Linked DNA regions of Homo sapiens. The protein of the gene in region 1 interacts with the protein of each later gene in a pairwise test. Each region holds a gene or a part of one and is shown on either strand. Other genes may lie near its edges. The genes, in order: CXorf38, CDHR3 and NFYC.

Region 1 (7,713 bases):
CGAGTTCCGCATTCATAGAATCAACCAACTGTGGATGAAAAATTCTCAGAAAAATAATACAACAGTAAAAAGTAATCGAAATTTTTTAAAAATATAGCATAACGACTATTTACATAGCACTTACATTCTATCAAGTATTATAAGTAATCTAGAGATGATTTAAAGTACATAGGAGAATGTATGTAAGTAATATGCAAATACCACATACATCATTTTATATCAGGGACTTGAGCATCTGTGGATTTTGGTATCCTTGGGGGTCTTGGAAGCAATACCCCATGGATAAGGAGAGACAACTATGTATGTCCAAGGGCCTCCATCAATTCCGTGAAGCATGAGCAAGGGCGGAGGAACGGGAGCAGGGATTTGCCAGGGAAAAGTAGTAGTCTCCAGAAACTGAAGCCTAGAGAGAGATGTGGCCAGACCGCTGGGGCTCATGATCAAGAATGAAAGTGAAACCAGTCAGTTCCCTTGTGAGATTCTTTCCCACTAATCAGAAGCAGAAAATGTCATCAGGACTGGAGTTGGGCCAGGCAAGTTCAGAGAAAGGAGAAAAAAAAAGCTGAGATAACAGCAAGGGACGGATTATAATGATGGGCCATGGAATCTGGGCTAGCTGAGGTGACAAAGGCAGGCAGGAGGACAGAGGGTGCTGGGTATTCAGGAAGCAGTGGAAGCCTCAAAGAGGCGGAAGTAGTATGGGGCACAGGGTTGGGGGCAGGGGTGCATGAATAAGTGTGCCAAAGGCCAGCAGGATGTTAGACACTGAGACTTTCTGTGCCAAGGTCCAGGGTGTGGGCATGCAAGCCGGAGGCTGAGGGGGAGTGAAGCAGAGGATGCTGGAATCAGGAGCCCAGAAACTGAGAGGATGGGGTTGGACTAGAAGGTCTGTAGGTGACAGCAACCAAGAGGAGCAAAGAGTGGTATAAGGAGGTAGTACAGGCTACAAGAGGATTCCAATGGTGTGAAAGCAGCAACGCAGACCAAACAGATGAGGGACAGGCATTGTAAAGGGCAGAGTTTTCTTTCTTTCTGTTTTTTTTCTCTTTTCTAGGTAGAAGTAGAAGTCAGCAACTCTATGGCTGCAGTGGAAAAAAATGGGGAAGATGGTGTAGGTGTGGTGGGTTTACCGGCTCGTGATACCCAAAAGTCTGGGGACCCCTGATACAGTTCAATTTTTTAAGACAGGGTCTTGCTCTGTCACCCAGGCTGGAATGCAGTGGTGTGATCACGGCTCACTGCAGCCTCGACTTCCCAGGCTCCAGTGATCCTCTCACCTCAGCCTCCTGAGTAGCTGGGACTACAGGCATGCACCACCACACCCAGCTAATTTTTGTATTTTTTTGTAGAGACGGGGTTTTGCCATGTTATCCAGGGTGGTCTTGAACTCCTGAGCTCAAGCCATCCTCCCACCTTGGCCTCCCAAAGTGCTGGGATTACAGGCATGAGCCACCGCGCCCGGCCCCAATTCCTTTCATTTTTTTTTTTTTTTTTTTTTTTTTTTTTTTTTTTTTTTTTTTTTGAGACGGAGTCTCGTTCTGTCGCCCAGGCGGGAGTGCAGTGGCGCGATCTCCGCTCACTGCAAGCTCCGCCTCCCGGGTTCACGCCATTCTCCTGCCTCAGCCTCCCGAGTAGCTGGGACTACAGGCGCCCGCCACTGCGCCCGGCTAATTTTTTTGTATTTTTAGTAGAGACGGGGTTTCACCGTGGTCTCGATCTCCTGACCTCATGATCCGCCCGCCTCGGCCTCCCAAAGTGCTGGGATTACAGGCGTGAGCCACTGCGCCCGGCCGTCCTTTCATTTTTGAGATTGGGGAGCACAAGCTGGCCCAGTGTCACACCACGGCAGCTGATCCAGGACTCAGATCATCTGCTTCCCAGGCACTGCTCCTTTCCAGTGCCCACCCTGTGCCTGCTGATAACTACTGGCATGTAGACTGACTGCTAAAGTCAATTTGTGTTAGGAAGCCACTTCTGGCTGTCCCTCTCCGTCCCTTACTGGGCAAAAAAATTTCCTACTCGATCTACTTAGTAAGTGACATTGCCAAGATCTGAAGACAGATCCGGCTGCCTACCCCATTCCCAGCTACCCAAAGTGCCTTTAACTGGGCACTTAAGGTGCTATTTTAGCCCTAACTTCCCTTGGCTTACTCTGTCATCCTTACGGCATCCTATAGCCAAAAAAGAGCTGATGAGCTGTTCAGCGAGCCTTACCCTCAAACAGGCCACACAAGAGTCTCCCTCCCTCCCTGCCTGTGCTCATGATGCTCGCTCTGCATCTTGCCCCAGTATCTCTTGTAGAACTCTTTCCTGTAACTTTCCAAGCAGGGGTAACAAACTCAAATGCCCTCAGGAAGCAGACGGGTAGAAGAAAGCTTCTACTTCACTAAGCTGGGTTGGGTCCCGCATACCACCCCTGAACCGCCTAGACCCTTGATCAATCTCTCTCTCTGCATCTGTTTATGAGGCCCCGGCGACCACAAGACCAGATAGCCACCCCGAGTGCTGGGTGACCCGCCGCTTCCTCCTTCCGTCCCCGCCTCAGGCGCTTACCTTGGCCACCTCCCAGGCGTCCACGGGCCAGCGGCCCGGCCGGCAGTTTCCCCAGTGCACATCTCCATTTCTGTTGACATGATGTCTCAAAATCTCCCTTTTCCATTCAGCGCACACCTGACACTGAGGCTGAAACTACAGGGGGCGGCGGTGAGGAGGGGCCCAGGAGGGAGGGACGTCGCGGTGGGCCCCGCATCGCGGAGGGAACAGGACACTTGCGCTCTGGGTCTGGGACAGGAACGGGGATGAGGAGGGGTGGGGTGGGGGCGGTGGTCAAGGCCCCGAGCCAGGTGCTCACCTGGCGGGCGCGAGGGCTGCACCGTGAGCCGCCGCGGCAGACGGCGCGGGGCCCCAGGCCGGGGGCTGCGGCGAGTAGGCCGCGGTGGAAGGAGAGCACCTCGCGGCCGACGAAACCCTGCAGGCAGCTGCGCAGCAGTAACAGGCAGTGGCCCGCCTTCACCCAGTTCTTGTACTCGGCGCAGTTGAGGCGCGCCGCTAGCTCCGACAGCACCATGTCTCCCACTTGGAACCAGGAGGTTGCGGGGCGTGGCGGACGGCAGTGCGCAGGCGCGGAGCCTGGGAAGTACCCGAGGCAGCGGCGCCTGCGCCGGCGGCAGCGACGCCTGCGCCTGCGCGGCGCGGTGCCACCGATCCCGGGGCGGGGCATCTTGACTTCCGGGGCACGTCGGCTCCACCCCACTTGGGTGACGTCTGACGTCTGACGTCTAACAACTTTGGTGCTTGGGGAAGCAGTTAACTATTTGAAACCCTTAGGCCCTCTTCGTCCCCCAAACAGAGACCCTGTCAGCATCCGATTCGACTCCCTCTCCTAATGTAGGGCACTTCTGTTTTAACTTTTTTTTATTGTCCAGATGTACAAGGTGCTCAGGGCACATTGCTTGAATCGTGTATGTTCTTTGCATTATACAATTCTAGAGTTACTGGTTCCTAAGCCCACAGACCAGCTGTAGCAAATTGAGGTATTAGTGAAACGTGACCGCTGGCTGCCTGCGGTGTGCCAAGCTAACCCAAAACTCAAAATCCCCCGCCACTGGACCACCCAGAAGGGGGCGTTTGCCTGTTTAGGGCAACACATCACTTGGATTCTAGAAGGCTGCACACCTGAGCCAGATAAGGGCATCCTGAAGCACCTAGCAAAGGTTAGACGATAATTATCTAGTATTCTTGATTATATGATAATTAGTGCTCCTTGCACATGGAAGTCTGATTTAAGTTCCAAAGAAGTGCCACAAAGGTCAGAAGGCACTGGGATTGTCAACTCCAAGTGACAAGTCAGGTCAGTTTTAGTTGTTTTTAATGAGCTTTCTGAGCTTGGAAAACATGTCAAAATTGTGTGTAGTTAAAAGCCTCTGAGGAAAGAGTCTAAACATTAAACCTTCCCGACTGTGGTTCACAGCAAAAATGTCCAGTGTTTAGGAGCACTAGCTCAGACTCAAACTGCCCCTTCTTAGCAGTTTGATCTTAAGCAACCTTAATTTGATCTCAGGCAAATTACATTTCTCTGGGCCTCCATTTACTCATTTTTAAGAAGAGGATATCAATAACCTACCACATTGGGTTGTTGTGAGGATTAAATACACATTGAAATATTAAGAAAATGCCTAGCACACAGTAAGCTCTCAGTAAATACTTGCTATTATTTTATATTGACCTAAATATGCCCTTTCATCAATCAGTTATATTCTTGGGCAAGGTATTTTAACAAATCACTGGCCACTTGGAAGTGGAGGCAACTTGCAGAAAATTGTGAGCATACCATGGAGTTCCTGGAGTTGTGCAGCACAGTGCTGGCTGGCCTCTGCTAACTTTGTCTTAATAACCTCAATGCTAAATCCATCCTAAGTAAATTTAAATCACATCCTTAGACACACTGTCCATTCTCAAACCGAATGAAAAAAAAATTCCACAAGAAACAATGAAATACACATTAACATTTTCCCTCTATGTCCCTTGAATGTAAGTTCTCTTAAAATTTTCTGTATACTGATTTTATATCAAGAACACTTGGATGATAAATAAACATTAAGGTAAAATGTAATAGGCACTTCTTTTGGGGGGAAAAACTATGAAAGGAACAACTTTTTATATTGAAATTGCATCAGAATCCAGGGTAGCAAAGTTATAACTTCTTGAAGTTATCAAATTAACCACAGTCCAAAGAATGGCTGTTAGTATCCTTTGGCTGAACAGATTACTGTGTTAATTAGAACACAGTTATTAGTGGTTCTTAAATTCAAAGTCATATAAATTTTAGTTTATGCTTGCACTTAACTCACTCAGTTAATTTTCAAACATAAGGTTCGACTCCTGTTATTAGCGACTTGACACGTTCTGCTGAAGCTCTCACTTTTCTTCTAATTCTGAAAGTACTTTTATACATTCTGAAATGGCATTTCAGCAGATGGAAAAATGAAGGTGGCAAATCAGGACCAATTTCTTATTTCAAGGTTAAATTAATACTAAACCAGACTATTAATGAAAACATCTTCATCAAAATTAACTAGAGAGTTGGTAGTTCTCTGAAACTTTGTATAAATTTTATTTATTACTGTAAATACTAAAATCACATTGAAAACACCTTAAAGTTAAGTCCCAACCCGATTATTAGAGAAAATCACTTGGGCATCCAGTCCCCTTGATCGAACCTGGGTAACAAAAGAGGCAAAAGACATGATTTGTGATGAAACTTACTATTCAAATGCTAAATGTTTTCAAGCTTTAATAAGGTATATATCAATTCCAAGTACCAAGCATAATATAAAAATTCAAATTCATGGGTTTACTCTTAATAAGCATCAAAAGCAAATTTTGCGCACTGAATCCTATCTTACTCTTGATTGGCACAATGCATTCAGAGATGAGTTATAATTAGGAAAAAAGAGTGTCCACTGAATGCATCATGTGTAAAAATGCAATTAACATTTCAAAACCACATTAAAAGGGAAAATACCTAAAAAGTTAACTCTTAATAAAATTATTTGAAACAATATTATCCTGCAGATAAAAATACATTTCTTGTATATACATGTAGATTTCTACATGAAAGAAAAGATTCAGCTCCAAATAGAAAAGGGCTGACCCTTGATAAAGACATCTTAGATTGCCAAACTGATGTGATTACCACTGTAAGAACTAAAAACAGAAGGATAAAAAGATTAAGTTAAAGGAAGGATAAAAGTTTAGTCAACTGCTCCTGAACAGTGGCAGAGTTGGGTGAGAAGTGGGAGATGAAGGCAGAAATAAGACAAAGAAGAAAGGCAAAGAAGGCTTCAACTCTGATTGAAAATGAGTGGAGAATCAAACAAAGTTGAGAACAGATATGATATAGGTACAGTGAGATACTTGAAACTAGAATTTGATAGTTGATAGTTATAGAAGCTCAATTAAATCATCTTGAAGTGGAATTAGACAAAGCATCTACATTTTAATGGAGAACCAGTATTACAGTGACCAGGTAACTCGGCATGGTATTATCACTTAAAAATTTTTCCTAAATACCATGAAGTCGGTAGAAGACCTTTGCATCAGACCATGTTCTTTGAAGCTTAAAAAAGTCCCTGACTGACTAGGAAAGACAGCACAGTGCTCCAAAAAGAAACCCTGCAGAGATGTATTAATACCAAAAACTCCATTTGACCCTGGACAGGCCCAGGATTCGGGATTCTTCACAATGAGGGGAATGGACCAGGTTTCTTCCAAGCAAAACATTCTATCGTTTTGTTGACAATGAATTAAATTGAAATTGTTTAGAACAATCCCAATTTTGGTGGGGAAGGAAAGGAGGATAAGTTAAGCAAGATAAAGAAAGCTCACAGAAACTTCATGCAGAGGTACAGCATTAAAGTTCTTTGTTTCCTAATTAATGTTGTATGCAGAAGTATTCTGTAAACTAAATTTTCCTGACAGAAAAGTTCCCACATCCTCAACAGATGAGAATGATTGCATTATTTGGGATCCTTGATCAATACGAACCACATACTGTCCCTTCTCAAAGACTAAGTTCCTTATTTTTCACCCAAATCCTATATATTGAAAGACAACCAAGGTGCTAAATGTTAACCACTAGTCAAGTTAGGAATGTCTGAAGAAAATATATTAACCTTGACATAAAGAAGATGTTTTTGGTCAAATTTCAGACATGTATTATTATAAATTAATAACTGGCTCCATCCACCAGGTTAAAGATGAAGGGAGGGCCTAAGATGTCTCTAGAGTTTATATACACACAAGTGAGTGTCACTGTTTTGTTTTGTTTTTGACCTAGTTTTATTAAATATTGCTTCCTTGGGGTGTGTTTATAACAACTCCCAGAACATTTCATGTAAGGATTCAAAGCGGTCATATTAAAATACAGCTTCAATATAAAGTTTATCACAGTTTTACAGTATTCAAAAATGACAGACCTGCCTTAAAAAACAAAACAAAAACCAAAAAAGGACTATTACACCCAAAACATAAGAAAACAATTAAATAAACAAGTTTGGCATTTTCATAACTTTATAGTATAAAACAGAATATTAAATTTATTACTGGCAAACGGACACTGATTTATTTCCTTTGAAATGTGTCCCATTTAAACACACTATACAAGTTCATTATACAAAAGATGGATGATCATTTTGATGAAAGAAGTGCACCCTGAAAATTTTTGCCAGTTTAGAATATTTAGCTCTTAAAGTTTAAAAAAAAAGTCCTTTTCCTTTTTTAAACTGAAGGCTGAATTCAGATTTTTTTTGTTGTCTCATCTGTCAGCCTTCCTGGTTTAAAAACAATAGTGTCTATGGACGCCCACCAGGGGGCAGTGTAAGATTAGCCATTAAATCACGAACAGCTGCAAATATTGTGCATTCACCTGCAACAGAGAAAAATGGTCATTAGCTATTCACAACACAGGAAAGATGTTAACACACCGGTAAGGGAAGGGGTAATTAAATCTAAAATTAGTGAGAACTTTAAAGATCAAAATAAAAGACAATTTTAACTGCCCAGATTATTGGGGATTAAGCTGTGGTGTTAAGTATCAGATTATATTTGGTTTGGATTTTTTTTCTCAGGAGGAAACTTCAAGCAAGTCCCAGTTAGGTTTGTATTTAGGAAGATATGTCTAGAGTTTCTGTTTAGAAACACTGTAGCATTAGA
Region 2 (7,108 bases), on another chromosome or scaffold:
CCAGGGAGGGCCCTTTCTCTGTCACTTTTCTGCAAGGTAGTGGAAGAGCAAAGAAAGTTTAAATCAGCTGGGCGCAGTGGCTCATGCCTATAATCCCAGCACTTTGGGAGGCCACAGTGGGTGGATCACTTGAGGTCAGGAGTTCAAGACCAGCCTGGCCAACATGGTGAAACCCCATCTCTACTAATAATACAAAAAATTAGCCAGGCGTGGTGGCACGTGTCTGTAATCCCAGCTACTTGGGAGGCCGAGGCATGAGAATCGCTTGAGTCTAGGAGGCAGAGGTTGCAGTGAGCCGAGATTGTGCTACTCCACTCCAGCCTGAGCAACAGAGTGAAACTGTGTCTTAAAAAGAAAGAAAGAAAGAAAGAAAGAAAGAAAGAAAGAAAGAAAGAAAGAAAGAAAGAAAGAAAGAAAGAAAGAAAGAAAATTTAAATCTCACTGGAGGCTGAAGCACTAGTTTTGGTCTTTAAGCTTCACTCCCTCAACTCACTCTCGTGGAGAGCTGGTATAGATAATAAACACCACTACTCAATATTTATGAAATCCTGTTCTTCTGCAAATATATCAGCAGGCATGTTCAGTGGAGGGAACAAATTCTATCAGGAGCTCGTCACACAGCAATCTGTTCCAGTAGCCAAACACAAGCACCTCCCTGAATGATAAACATGCCCACAAGGCTGTGGCAGGCCTGCCTTCGGGGGAGACGGGAGCCCCTATCCCCCAGCGTCTATGCCTGGTGCCCCACACTGCCCATACTCACCACCACGACGTCTCTCTCTGCAGTCTTCGTTTCTGCAGAGAACAGAACAGGCAGAAGTTAAGCTTCTTGGGTGGTAAATTGACCTTAAAATTCCACCTCCACAACGGTATTTCCCCTAAATAGGCTTCGATCTCAGTCTTGCAGACACAGCAAAGAATTGTTCTGTCTATAGATATGTTTCTTGACAACTTTCCATCTTCTCAGAAAAAAATACGTACACATATGTATACACACACACACAATAACATACGAACAATTTAGTTGTTTTTTATTCTTTTTCTAGCTTATTATCAGTGGACCTAGAAAACTGGCTTTTACATGGCTTTTAAGATAAGAAAGAAAGATGGGATTGGATACCTCTGTTCATAAGGTGTGGGTTTTGTGCATTAATTCCCAAGCCCTTTTATTTTATTTTATTTTATTTTATTTTATTTTATTTTATTTTATTTTATTTTATTTTATTTTAAGACAGGGTCTCACTCTTGTCGTCCAGGCTAGAGTGCGGTCACAACTCGCTGCAGCCTTGACCTCTTGAGCTCAAGTGATCCTCTCAGCTATCTCCCCAGTAGCTAAGACTACAGGCGTACACTACCACACCCAGCTAATTTAAAAATTTTTTTTCTACAGACAGGGTTTCACTATCTTGCCCAAGCTGGTCTCGAACTTCTGGGCTCAAGTGATCCTCTAGCCTTGGCCTCCCAGAGTGCTGGGATTATAAGTGTGAGCCACCATGCCCAGCCCCCATCCCCTTTTTAAAAAGTGGGATTAGAGACAGTTTGTGAAAATCTCATTTATTAAAATCATCTCTGTCAATATGATCAATAACCACTATAATCAAATTTCTAACCCTGTTGAGACATGCCTTAAGCATGTCAGACACATGCCTGTAGATGGAGTGATTAAAGCAAACTTTTTTTTTTTTTAATTAAAACACTGTCCAATTCTTTGTCCTGTCTCCCCCACACTCTGGAGTCTACTTGAGGCCAAGCCAGGACACCTCCTCAGACCTGGAGCTGCTCAGATGGACCTTCCCAATTTACCCACTTCTCTGAAGTCAGTCAGCTCTCAGCCCATCTCACCACCCTCATCTCCCCCTTCTCACTAGTCTAACCTAAATAATTTGTGGAAATGATCAAATCCATTAGAATCTGGGAATCAAATATTATCTGTTCTTTTTTTTTTTTTTGAGACAGAGTCTCACTATGTCGCCCAGTCTGGAGTGCAGTGGCGTGATCTTGGCTGACAGCAACCTCCACCTGCTGGGTTCAAGCAATTCTCCTGCCTCAGCCTCCCGAGTAGCTGGGACTACAGGTGCGTGCCACCATGCCCGGCTAATTTTTTGTATTTTTAGTAGAGACGGGGGTTTCACCATGCTGGCCAGGCTGGTCTCAAACTCCTGACCTTGTGATCCACCCACCTCGTCCTCTCAAAGTGCTGGGATTACAGGCGTGAGTCACTGCGCCCAGCCTTATCTGTTCTTTCAAAAGAGGCCTGTGTCCAGCACAAAGCATTAGCTGTCCTCAGGACACCCTCCATGGGCTGCAGTAAGCAGGTCCTGTCTACATTTAACACACGGAGAGTTCTTTCTTCCTGTGCCATGCAGCAAGGGACAGACCTAGGTGTTCAGCTGAGCTGATTGGCGAGGGCTCTAGGTAGGGCATAGGCAGGACCAAATTGAGATATCCAGGCAGGCCAAGGCACTGTCCCCCCACCCTTCCCATTCTCCAGCTGCAACCGACCTCCGCTTCCTTCCAGCCACAGAAGATGCAGCTGAAAATGCTCCAAGATGTGATCGCGGCCTGATTCTTTGCCGAGTAGGAACCTTTTTACGTAGCACAACAGAGCAAGCAAAAAACAACAGACAAGGGAAACAGGTACTGTACATACCTCCTTTCTTTGTCCTATGGGGGGAAAAAGAATGGCTATTAATTCACTTGAAAGTATGCTGCACTGGCACACACATGACACCATGGGGTTCTTTGGGCAACTATGCCCTTTGAGATACAGGGGTTGACTGAAAGAGGTGCCAGGGATAGGGGCCAGAAAGAAAACTAGATCACCACGCCTGCTTCGAACAAAGCAGCTTCATCACTATTGGCTTTGGACTAGGGAGGTTCTGGGAATTTGATGAGTTGAAAAGTATCACCTTATAAACTTCAGGGAATACATTGTTTCTGATGAGAAAACCTGGTGAGGACATGCCTGCCCTAGTCAGACTGTCCAGCGAGTCTTCTTGCCCTATCCCTTTCTCCCCAAGAGCCAGCAGAGCAGAAGGCTTGGCTCACAACAGGGAGGTTTGAGAGCTGGCAGTTACATTTTGGTTTCCTGTCACATGAAGAGCTGGACTCAGACCCTACGAGATTTCCCATGATCACCTTGGATTCTATAGCTCTGTAACCCTAATTTTCTTCTTTGCTATTTGACAAAGTTGGCTGTCATATGGTATAACTAATTTCCAGAGAGGTTGAGTCTGAGTCTGGTTTTCTAGCTAGTTTTTCTTTTTTAAGTCAACCATGTTGAAAACAATTAATATTTACAACATAAGTTAAAAGAACCAGGTTCAAGGTGCATATTTAACGTTTAGCCATAAATTACATGAGAGTTGCAGTGTCTATTGGATTTGTTTCTTCAAGAACTTCTATCCAAATCCCAGTACAGTACACCACCATCCTTACAAGCAATTACTCTTTTAGAGCTGTTTTTTTTTAAAAAAATCAATTTGTGAATAGAGTTCAAACAAAAATGCCTTTTTTAATTTCAGCAGATGCTCGAGGATTTCTTACCTTGAAGTCAAGGTTGCCAATAGCAACAAACTTCCGCAATAAATATGGCAAAATGCAACGCACATCTTTATTCTAATGCCTTGTACTTTTATACAGTCTTTCATCCATAGATTTTCTTATTTGACAGTTAATATTTAATATTTAAAATACCCGTAAAAGGCACACATGTCTTATCACCCCCTCTTTTTGCCATTGAGAGATCCTAGAACTCAGAGGTTCCAACACCTCAAGATACTTGGGCATAGAGCTAAACTTGGAATCTAGAATCCTGAACTCATTGGGACTCATCTGTGAAGAATAATGAAACAAGATTTGTAAAAACTGGCTGGGTAGTGTACTAAGCATTTACTCTATATCAGGAATACAGTTAAGTGCCTTGTTTACATTTGTTCATTTAGTTGATTAATTTTACAAATAAGAAAATTCAAGTTCACAGAGGTGGTCACTTGCTCAAAGCCATATTCCAAGAAAATGGTAGAGCTAAGACTTGAGCTCAGGCCCATCTAACTCCAAAACTCAGGCTCAGAACCATCTAAGCTGTAAGTTGTAAGAGCTACTGAGAATCAAGGAGCTTGGCTCTGGGAGAAGTTTGTGATTCTTTGGTGCTCTCTTCACGTCACTCTACTACCTCACTTTAGCCAGTAAAAGACACATCACAGATTGGCACAATAAGAGGCATATTAGTGGGCAGCTGAAAACTGGAAAAAGAGAAAACAGGCCTGCGTTTACAACCCTTAAGAGTGAGAGACTGAGACCACAAGCAAAACACCAAGAATTATTTGGTCACACAAAAACCCGGCTGAGTCACTGGAGACAAAAGCTTAATTCCCTTATTGGTTTTGTGTGCTTGCCTTAATTCCATACTATCCTTTAAATATTCTACAAATAAGAGCACGGCATATTCTATCGCTATTTACAACAGGGCTTTGCTGAAGATTTTATCCAGGGCAAGGTCATCAGAAGGTTGATGCCCCAGTCTTATTAAGAGCCTCAAGGACAGAGTAGGTTGCCAGGGAAAGCCAAAAGGATGGTTTCCTGGCCTAGCAGGTGACAAAGAAAGTGCACCAGGACCGAGGGGAGCTGGGATTCCTTCCCCCGTATCTCCTTTTCCTGCCTTCACTCCAGGCAACCTGCCTTGTAGAGAAATCCTGATTCTCCATTTTTCCTTCTCCTGATGTCACCAGAAACAGTGTCCTAAAGGAGGTGGGGAAGAGGGCCCAGCCCACTGGCAACTTACAGAGGTTCCTTGTTCTTCCCAGTCTTGCAGGGGCAGTGTCTGTGGATGGCTTTGGCCAATAGGACGACCAGGTACACGAGGAGACCCAGAAGCAATATGGAGCCCAAAGTGATGACAAACGGCACGTACCATGCAGATGGAGAGTAAACGTTTTTCCTCAGGACCTGATAGGTGACCCTGGGCTTGAACAACAGAGAGCAGGGAGGGTGAGTAGAGGGTGGTAGTGATTTTGACATTCAGCACTCTCTCGTGTTGAGTGTTTATTCCACTCTTTGTTATTGTTATTGCTCTATAAGTTGGACATCTGTGTGCTCACAGTTCTTGCTGCTTCAACCCATCACCTTATTTATAGTCTTTGCAGACATCCATTAGATCAAAACCCAGAAATTTTAGGGAACTGAAAAACAACTCTAGGCCTTATTTTATTCTCTGTCTTCCCCTTCCCCAAAGCTAAAAAAAACTCCATTGGCTTTTTTTCTGCCATATCTGGGCATAACCCAGGGACGAATATAGCCATTGTCTCTCACCGAGACAGCATAAGCCACGAAAGTTGTTTTTTTAAATGCCTTGTAGGCTTTTCAGTGTTTTCTCAACTACAAGCTGCCACTGCCAGAGCAGTGGGCTGATATCACAGCAAAGCCTCAAGTTCAGCATCTGCTTCCTAGAGCTGGAGACAGATAACAAACAAGTTACGGAGGTTTCAGGATTGGAGATGTCACAATCAGGTCATGCTCTGAGCCCAAGAAAGGTGGGAACTCCTCACTCAGGAGAGCCTACCAGCTCCTCCCACAAGGAAAGTCCTAGGGTTGCCATATGCCTCCATTCACTGGGGTCATATTGACTCGAGCATGGGAGAGAGAAGCATGAACCAGCTCCTGGCAAGACTCTGAGAAGAAGCTGGCCACCTCCATAGTGGGTTCTCTAAGGTTCTGATTATCTTCCTTCTGGCATGCTGCAGGTATCAGGCTGCTGACCAGGGGTGCAGCTTCTACTAGGAGGAGGAGGAGGAGGAGGAAGAGGAGGAGGAAGAAAGGGGACAGATGAGTCAGCATAGATGCAAGCCAGTTCCTCCAAGGGGCAGGGAAGATAATCCTGTTGTCAGATTCAAGGCTCTCCCTTCCTTCTCCAGGCCAATTCTGTGATAGCACCTGGTCATTTTCTTCCTACCCTTTCCCACAGTCTGTATTTACTTTGTCAATTTGAATACTTGTTTGTAATCTATCTCCCCCTCTAGATCAGTGGCTCTCAGACTTTAATGCACATTAGAATTCCCTGAAAGGCTGATTGAAAACACAGCTCACTGGACCCCACCTCCAGAGCTTCGGATTCATTAGGTTAGGGGATAGAGTTGGGGATTCCAGGTTCCAGCATCCTTCCCTGGAGGTCATGGTGATGATCATGGTTGGGTAACCTATAACTTTAATAATCTAGGCTGGGCCTGAGAATTTGCATTTCCAACCAGTTTCCAGGTGGTGCTGATTCTGATGGTCTAGGGACCGCACTTAGAGAATCACTCGCCTATACAATAAGCTTTCTGAGAGCAGGGATCATTTTTGGCTTGTTTGCTAAAGTGACTGGCACACTATAGGCATTAAATCGATATTTGTAGATTGGATGAATTTTTTTGGAGCGGAGGTGGGGTGTAGGGTACAGATTGGTACCTGGTGATTCTTCAAAAGATGTGGGAAAGAGCACCCAGCAGTAAGCAAGCAACCTAATTTCATGGATATTGACTTGCAAAGACTCTTCTGAACAAGCAGAGAGGGGTTGTGAAGGTAGCAACTGGCAGCATGCCCATGGAAATCAGCTCCTGTGCCACAAGCCACACAGATGGTTGAGGTCTGATCTCTCACAAGTCTCTGCACAAACAACACACTCTTCTCTACCAGAACAGGAAATGTTAGTGGTTGAGTTAGCGGTTATGAGTCTGAGGTCTCACCAGATTTTTGCCACCCTGCAGCTACTCCAGTCCAGCCCATGGTTGCCATTTTTGGCAACATCCTAATACCTCAACTCTTCAGTCCACCCCACATACCTCCAGGCCGGGGAAAGAAGTCCATCAACATAACTCACAAGGGAATGTGCCTGGGGATTCCAGGTCCTAAAGCCCTTACCCTGGGGGTCGTGGTGATGATAGTGGTTGGGTGGGGAATGACTTTAATACTCAGTGTCACTGTTCCTGTCTCAACAAGAGCCTCCGCTTTCTTCCTGTCAGACATCAAGTTGTCATCAGTTACGTAGACAAGTAGCTTGTAGTCCCAGATCTTATCAAACCCACCAGCATAGTCAAAGCGAGATGTAAGCAGCAGGCGTGTGACATTGGAA
Region 3 (7,108 bases), on another chromosome or scaffold:
TTTTTACATTAATTACAGAGAAAATAAGCTCTGGGTTTTTGAAAGGGAAATAAAGTTTCCTTCCTGAAGCTCATCACTATTAGGAACATTCCAATGAGCTGCCTAAAGAGTCTGGAAATGAAGACTCCTACAGAAGGTGCCTGAGCCAGTGAAGATGAAGTAGTGAATTCTGCAACAAATCTTCTGGGCTAAAGCTCTGTGCCCCAGAGAGTTAAAGTATCTGCAAGGTGGAACTCTTCTCTGTCTTAAATGAACCTGTGGTGGTGCCTTCGCTTGCAAAAATGAGAACCATTCAACAGAAATCTTGGGGTTGAGGACTGAAACAATGAAGCAAGGCAGAGCTCAGTCATCTGCAATCCTGGGTATCGTAAGCACACGTGAGAGAGGTAGAGAAAGAGACATACACACTCCACTTTCCTAAGCTTTCTCTTGGCCTATTACTATGTTAACTTCAGATGAAGAACAATTCCTAAACTGATCTCAGGATACTTTTAGAGTTATTTTCACAGAGGAAGTGGTTAACCAAGTCTACGTGAGTTTCTATACCTGCCTACGTTTCATTTATGACAAAAATGGCAAAGGGCAGGGAATAGAAGGACTGCTCTGTTTCACTCACTTTCCAGTTTTGGGGGGTCAAAATGACCAATGTAAAGACTGCAAGTGTTAAGACAAGGACACATTTTACAAAAGGAGTACAAATAAAAAAGCCAACAAATCTAAGAAATGAAATCCCTCAAGGCACACAGGAAGCAGCAGTCCACAGTAAAGGAATAGATAAGTTATATGAAAGCCAAAAATACACTTTGCTGCAGGCTCCACTGGGAACTGACTCATGAATATGCAACAAGTGTATTTATGGCCTTCCCTATACGCCTCCCTCTTATCCTCTGCTAATCAAATACAGGACTGCCTCACAGGGCCTTTGGGCCTTGGCATGGGTAGTGGTTACAATGATTTCCCTGCATAGGTAGAATGAGGGGAAATCGAGAGAAGCCGCCCAATCGTGGTGAACCTGAACCTAGATTAAAGGAAAGCAGGGAACAAACACAGTGAAGCAAGTTGTGGTCAGGAACACTGGGCATATAGGTTAAAAACAAAACAAACACACACACGCATATATATAAATAAGTACTGAGGGCTGGGCGTGATGGCTCATGCCTGTAATCCCAGCACTTTGGGAGGCCGAGGCGGGCGGATCACCTGAGGTTAGGAGTTAGAGACCAGCCTGGCCAACACTGTGAAACCCCATCTCTACTAAAAATACAAAAATCAGCCGGGCATAGTGGCACGTGCCTATAATCCCAGCTACTCGGGAGGCTGAGGCAGGAGAATCGCTTGAACCTGGGAGGCGGAAGCTGCAGTGAGCTGAGATCAAGCCACTGCACTTCATCAGTCTGAGTGACACAGCAAGACCTGTCTCCTAAAAAGAAAAAAAGGATTATGCATGCGTGTGATATATATCTCTATATATATATCAAGGTATATATATAGCTACAGATATATATATCAAGGTATATATATAGCTATAGATATACATATCAAGGTATATATAGAGACATACATATATATATCAAGGTATATATATAGCTATAGATATATATATCAAGGTATATATATAGCTATAGATATACATATCAAGGTATATATAGAGATATACATATATATATCAAGGTATATATATCTTTAAGTATTTCCTTCTATAAAGTTGTAAAGACAGACCTCAGGGCAGGACTCACCGGGATCTGCTGGATCTCTCCTGTGTTAGTGATGATCTGCTGCATCACCTGCATGGTCTGTCCAGTGCCACTCTGGGCCTGTTGGGCTTGACCCTGTGGCTGAGCCTGGACAATCTGCACCTGCTGACCTTCTCCAACCTGCATTGTCACAGGTGTGGTCTGAAAGGAAGAGTTATGAGAATGCTGCGTGAGTTCAGGCTCAGAGCCCACAGGATTACCGAGAGGTTAATAACGAGCAATGTGCTGGGAGCAAACCCTCTCCATGAATGCCTAAGGTCATCTCAGTACTAGTAATAACCTACAGAGTCCTCTGGGTTTACAGCATTGCTGAAGTTACTCTCCAAAACGAAAGAAAAACCAAAAATATTTTTAGGCTCACAGTACAAATATTTGCATGGGTCCCAAACATAAATCTCTGTGCCCCAAATGCTGCAACTTTTCACAGCCCCTTTAGTGATAAGGCACATACACTACAGAAAAAATCAAAAGCAACCATGACCGTTTACTTCAGAAATAGCCAAAGTCAAGTCTGGGGCAGGTGAATTTGGAGGGGAACATTAAATGGAAAGGGTCAGTATGAATTTATTTAGTTCAGGGTCATGTGCTCTTTCTTAGGCATGTAAGACACTGAGAGAAAAATAAAGCACAGGGGTGCATCTCCAAGGCGGGCCCTAGTGCACGCTGGCTCTCACCCCATTCAAGCTGCAGAGCAATTCCTGCCCACACTGGCCAGATGGCTGCTCTGGACCACAGTATGGCTTCCCAAAGGAGAGCAAACACTGCTAACTCACTGGGCACTGTTAAGACACAGACTCTTAACTAAGTCTACCCCTAATTAATAGAATTTAAGAAAGCAAGAACTCTAACTTTCTAAAAATAGCAATCTCAGATTTAAGAAATTTCTGCCCAATGTGTATGACTTGGCAGATTCTGTCTCTCACACACAATGGTTGTAGTCCTATGAAATGTACTCTTTTGAGACGGTAAAGACACAAGCTGCCAAAAGGGTCAATTATTCTTTCAAATCTCAAACCTTTAGTACTGTTTGTGACTTTTACAGGTTACCTAGAGCAGTGAGCCTATCTGGGCTCATCTGGTGGTGGTAGTGATGGGGGGTGGCGGGGGTGTGGGCGTGGGTGGAGCCTTTTAAACTACACCTGTACACCCAATCCCTGACTTGAATTCCATCACTATCTCTCCTCACTTTGAATTAATCACCTCAATAAGAAGACTATGGAACTCTCAATGAATCATAAACTTCAACCGATGTTGCTATTCTGATGTTCTTAATTCTGACTGCATAGGTTACTGAAAATTACAACTATGCATCCAAAGTTACAAGGGAAGGGGATGTGTTCTGGGAACGACAGATGAGATTCAAGGGATTACTACGGAGAAATTACTATAAACTGGAGGAGGGCCAAAAAGAAAGACGACAGAGTGTTCTAAAAGTACATGCAGTGGGCTAGGCTAACAGAAAACATTTCTTCCATTCTTGTACCACAATTTTCAACTCAGCCTATTCCCAACCTCCAGAAATAAGTTTTCAATTTATGACAGAAAACACAGGATTAATTTTACCAAAATATGCATTCTTTCCAACTCTGCTTTAATACATATGTATTCTGTCCTACGAAGGATATTTGCACTCAACTTGAAATAGCCATCACTACGGGTCCAGGGAGGTGTGACACAGCACAAGGCCACCCTGAAGCAGCAGGATGGTGAAACAACAGCCAGGAAATGCTGGGAAGGACCAACTTCACCATCCTCACAAGCCTTATCAGCTCCAAGCTGAGCACGTCTGGGTTGGCAGAGAGGAGCACAGATGAAATTCTCGCTGACTAAAAAGAAATGCATGCTGCCAACTCATCACTGTACTGTATCAACCCAATTTTCCCGAGAGGATTTCCAAGGTATTTCTAAATCATTTCAGGAAAATGAGGGCTTGTGTTAGCATGGCAGCTGTCAAATCATGTATGGTGTGCCCTGCTGTCAGGGCACAACAGCCATGAGCTTCTTAGGATGATCAGCCAATCAGAGCCTGCCCTTGGCAGACTCCCTCTAAGTTCATTCTGTAAAGGGATAAAGCCTTTGGCAGGTAAAGTTTTCACCACTGCAGAGGCACAAGCATTAGCCAAAGAAGGTCCCTTAGGCATCATGATACAGTCGAGGCCTTGAGCCAGTGACTGAGCAGCCATTATCTTTGAACCCTCCTGCCTAGCACAGTGTCTGGCATAGAACAAGCACTCAATACATTTTTGTTATATGGATAAGTAAAATGAGCAGAGAATAAATCCTAAAATCATAATTACCTTTTTTTTTTTTTGAGACAGTCTCGCTCTGTCACCCAGATTGGAGTGCAGTGGCACGATCTCAGCTTACTGCAACATCCGCCTCCCAGGTTCAAGAGATTCTCCTGCCTCAGCCTCCCCGGGTAGCTGGGACTATAGGCGCCCGCCACCACGCCCGGCTAATTTTTGTATTTTTAGTAGAGATGGGGTTTCACCATATTGGCCAGGCTGGTCTTGAACTCCTGGCTTTGTGATCCGCCCACCTCGGCCTCCCAAAGTACTGGGATTACAGGTGTGAGCCACTACGCCCAGCCATAATTACTTATTTTTAATTCTCTGTGTGTTTGTTTTTGAGACAAGGTCTTGCCATATTGCCCAGGCTGGTCTCCAACTCCCGGGCCCATGCGACCCTCCTGCTTTGGCCTCCCAAAGTGATGGGATTATAGGTGTGAGCCACCGCACCTGGCCAAATCATAATTACTTAAATCTACCTCCTAACTGGGCATGGTGGCTCATGCCTGTCATCCCACCACTGTGGGAGGCCAAGGTGGGAGGATGGCATAAAGCCAGGAGTTTGAGACCAGCCTGGGAAACATAATGAGACCCCATCTCCACAAAAAAATTAAAAATTATCCAGGTGTGGTGGCACATGCCTGGGAGTCCCAGCTCCTCGGGAGGCTGAGGCAGAAGGACTGCTTGAGCCCAGTAGTTTGAAGCTGCAGTAAGCTATGATTGTGCTACTACACTCCAGCCTGAGTGACGAAGTGAGAACTTATCTTTAAAAAAACATCAATCAATCAATCTACCTCTACTCCATTTTTTTTTCTTCTAGGCAAACTCAGCTCCTTATTAGAATATACGAGGCTGTCCAGGATGTGTTTACTATCTATCTTTCCAAACTTGCGTAGATGGTCCCCTACGCTGACTACTTTCCTACGGCCCCCTGTACTGTTTCTCACCTCTGAGCCTTTGCCTGTGCTGTGCCCTCTACTGGCAATACCACCCTTTCCCACTTTCTTTGATTAATTTCCACTGTTCCCCAAGACTCATATTATTCCCTTCAGAAACATTATCTGACCACCTCGTTCACATCTTTCTCAGCTACTCATCCCCTCCCCTACATACATACACACACATATACATATATATACACACATATATAATACACACACACATACACACACACACACACATATACTTTTTTTTGTTTTTTTTTTGAGACAGGATCTTGCTCTGTCACCCTGGCTGGAGTGCAATGGCACAATCACAGCTCACTGTAGCCTTGACCTCCTTGGCTCAAGCGATCCTCCCAACTCAGCCTCTTAAGTAGCTGGGGCCATAAGAGCATGCCACCATGGCTGGCTAATGTTCTGATGTTCTGGTGGAGACAAGGTCTCACCATGTTGCCCAGGCTGGTCTTGAACACGTGGGCTCAAGCAATCCTCCTGCCTCGGCCTCCCAAAGTGCTGGAATTACAGACATGAGCCACCACATGCCCCTGCCTTTTTTTTTTTTTTTTAATTAAAGAAGAGGTCTTGCTGTGCTGCCCAGGCTGAAGTGCAGTGGCATGATCCTACCTCACTGTAACCTCAAACTCCTGGGTTCCTCCCACATTGGCCTCCCAAAGTGTTGGGATTACAGGCATGAGCCACTGCGCTGAGCCAAGGTACTTCTTTTAATGTGTTCCTTTAACACCCTGTACACATTCCCACGTGGTGGTACAACCTTTAAGTATTTGTATCCCCAACTAAATTGTGAATTCCTTGAAAATAAGGACTGTTTTATTCATGCTTGTATCCCCAATACATAGCACAGAACTTTACCCTCAGAGGATGCTCAGTGTTTGATGAATAAATAATGATTGACAGAGAATTTGGATTCAGAGCTCATAGTACAGAGTTCTCTGCAGCCTCACATGACCCCCAACAAACATGAATGCTACTGCTCTTAACACTACTACTGGGGAGAGAAAGAGTCCTCTGATTACTATCGTAAAAAGAGAAGGTCACTTAACACAAATATGGGACAGAGAAATGACGGGGAGAAGGAGTATGCAACTTGGCAATGATACCTAATCTCTCCCTTTAAGGGCACAAATTCCACTTCTCACACAGACACACAGACAGCAGGCATGGAGTTCACTTTAGCACCTCTACTCTTCATAAGGCATTTCAGACATTTTTTTTTCCCTTCTAAAATTTCTGAGCTAATAGGGATCCTGGAGAACATACTGTCTAGTACACTTTCCTCATTTGACCTTTGAGAAAAACAGGGTCCAGAGAGATTAGGGTAACATCTCACCCCAGTAGCTGAATCTGGGGAAAAGTTCCAGTTTCCAGACTTTAAATCCAGTGCTCTATAATGATCTGGCTGCCTCTCTGCCCTCATCAAGCTCTGCCCATCCAAAAACCTAAGGGGCACTGTCTTGCTGGATGGGCATCCTCAGCAGCTCACAGACCTGGCCCTGCTGAGGCTGTGCGATGATGATCTGCCCAGGCTGGATGGTGGTCGTGGAGCTGGTGGTCTGCTGGCCTTGCTGCTGGCCCTGGACTTGGACAGCGGTGGGTTGCTGAGCCAGCGTGAAATAGTACTGGACTGGCTCGGCAGGAGTTACAGACTGGCGCACCTCCTCCTGTTGGGTGGAAAGAGAGGCAGGTAAGAGGAAAAGAACCAACTCAGCAGCCGCCACAGTGAATTTCCACTCTTCCCCCAAACAGGCTATGTGCAGTTGCCTGCTGAATGCTGAGCTCTCCACATTTGAAGCCAAAGGAAAGTGGAATTCAAAGAGACCAGTTATGCTAAATCAAACTAAAAATAACAGATCCTATAGGCTTCACAAAACATACAGCCAATTTCTGAAGTACGAAATAATCACCCATTGCATGATAAGTTGCAAACGGGCAAATAAGTACCGTAACTAAAAACCACACACCAGCAGTGCTTGTCAGTAAATGCTGTCAAGGCCTGTGATCTGAGAACAGTGCTAATTGCAAGTGTTGGGAAGATGCTACCCAAACATCATGCCTCTCAGGCCTGGTCCCAATCTCCCAAATAGGCAGCACTCTTCTCGTTTTAGCC

The links.
Region 2: the proteins of CXorf38 (region 1) and CDHR3 interact in binary tests that used the Homo sapiens proteins (3 or more experiments, as listed by UniProt).
Region 3: the proteins of CXorf38 (region 1) and NFYC interact in binary tests that used the Homo sapiens proteins (3 or more experiments, as listed by UniProt).

Annotation. Positions count from the first base shown.
Region 1 is NC_000023.11:40,644,454-40,652,166, forward strand, and holds the start of CXorf38 (uncharacterized protein CXorf38), read right to left. Parts: upstream 3,109-7,713; 5' UTR 3,068-3,108; coding exon 2,852-3,067; exon of another isoform or gene 2,689-2,851; coding exon 2,554-2,688; intron 1-2,553. Other genes in the region: MED14 (mediator of RNA polymerase II transcription subunit 14), read right to left, coding at 7,353-7,426.
Region 2 is NC_000007.14:106,022,238-106,029,345, reverse strand, and holds part of CDHR3 (cadherin-related family member 3 isoform 1 precursor), read right to left. Parts: coding exon 6,898-7,108; intron 4,966-6,897; coding exon 4,784-4,965; intron 2,665-4,783; coding exon 2,651-2,664; intron 796-2,650; coding exon 764-795; intron 1-763. UniProt on the Homo sapiens protein: Cadherins are calcium-dependent cell adhesion proteins.
Region 3 is NC_000001.11:40,757,675-40,764,782, reverse strand, and holds part of NFYC (nuclear transcription factor Y subunit gamma), read right to left. Parts: intron 6,663-7,108; coding exon 6,489-6,662; intron 1,896-6,488; coding exon 1,737-1,895; intron 1-1,736. UniProt on the Homo sapiens protein: Component of the sequence-specific heterotrimeric transcription factor (NF-Y) which specifically recognizes a 5'-CCAAT-3' box motif found in the promoters of its target genes.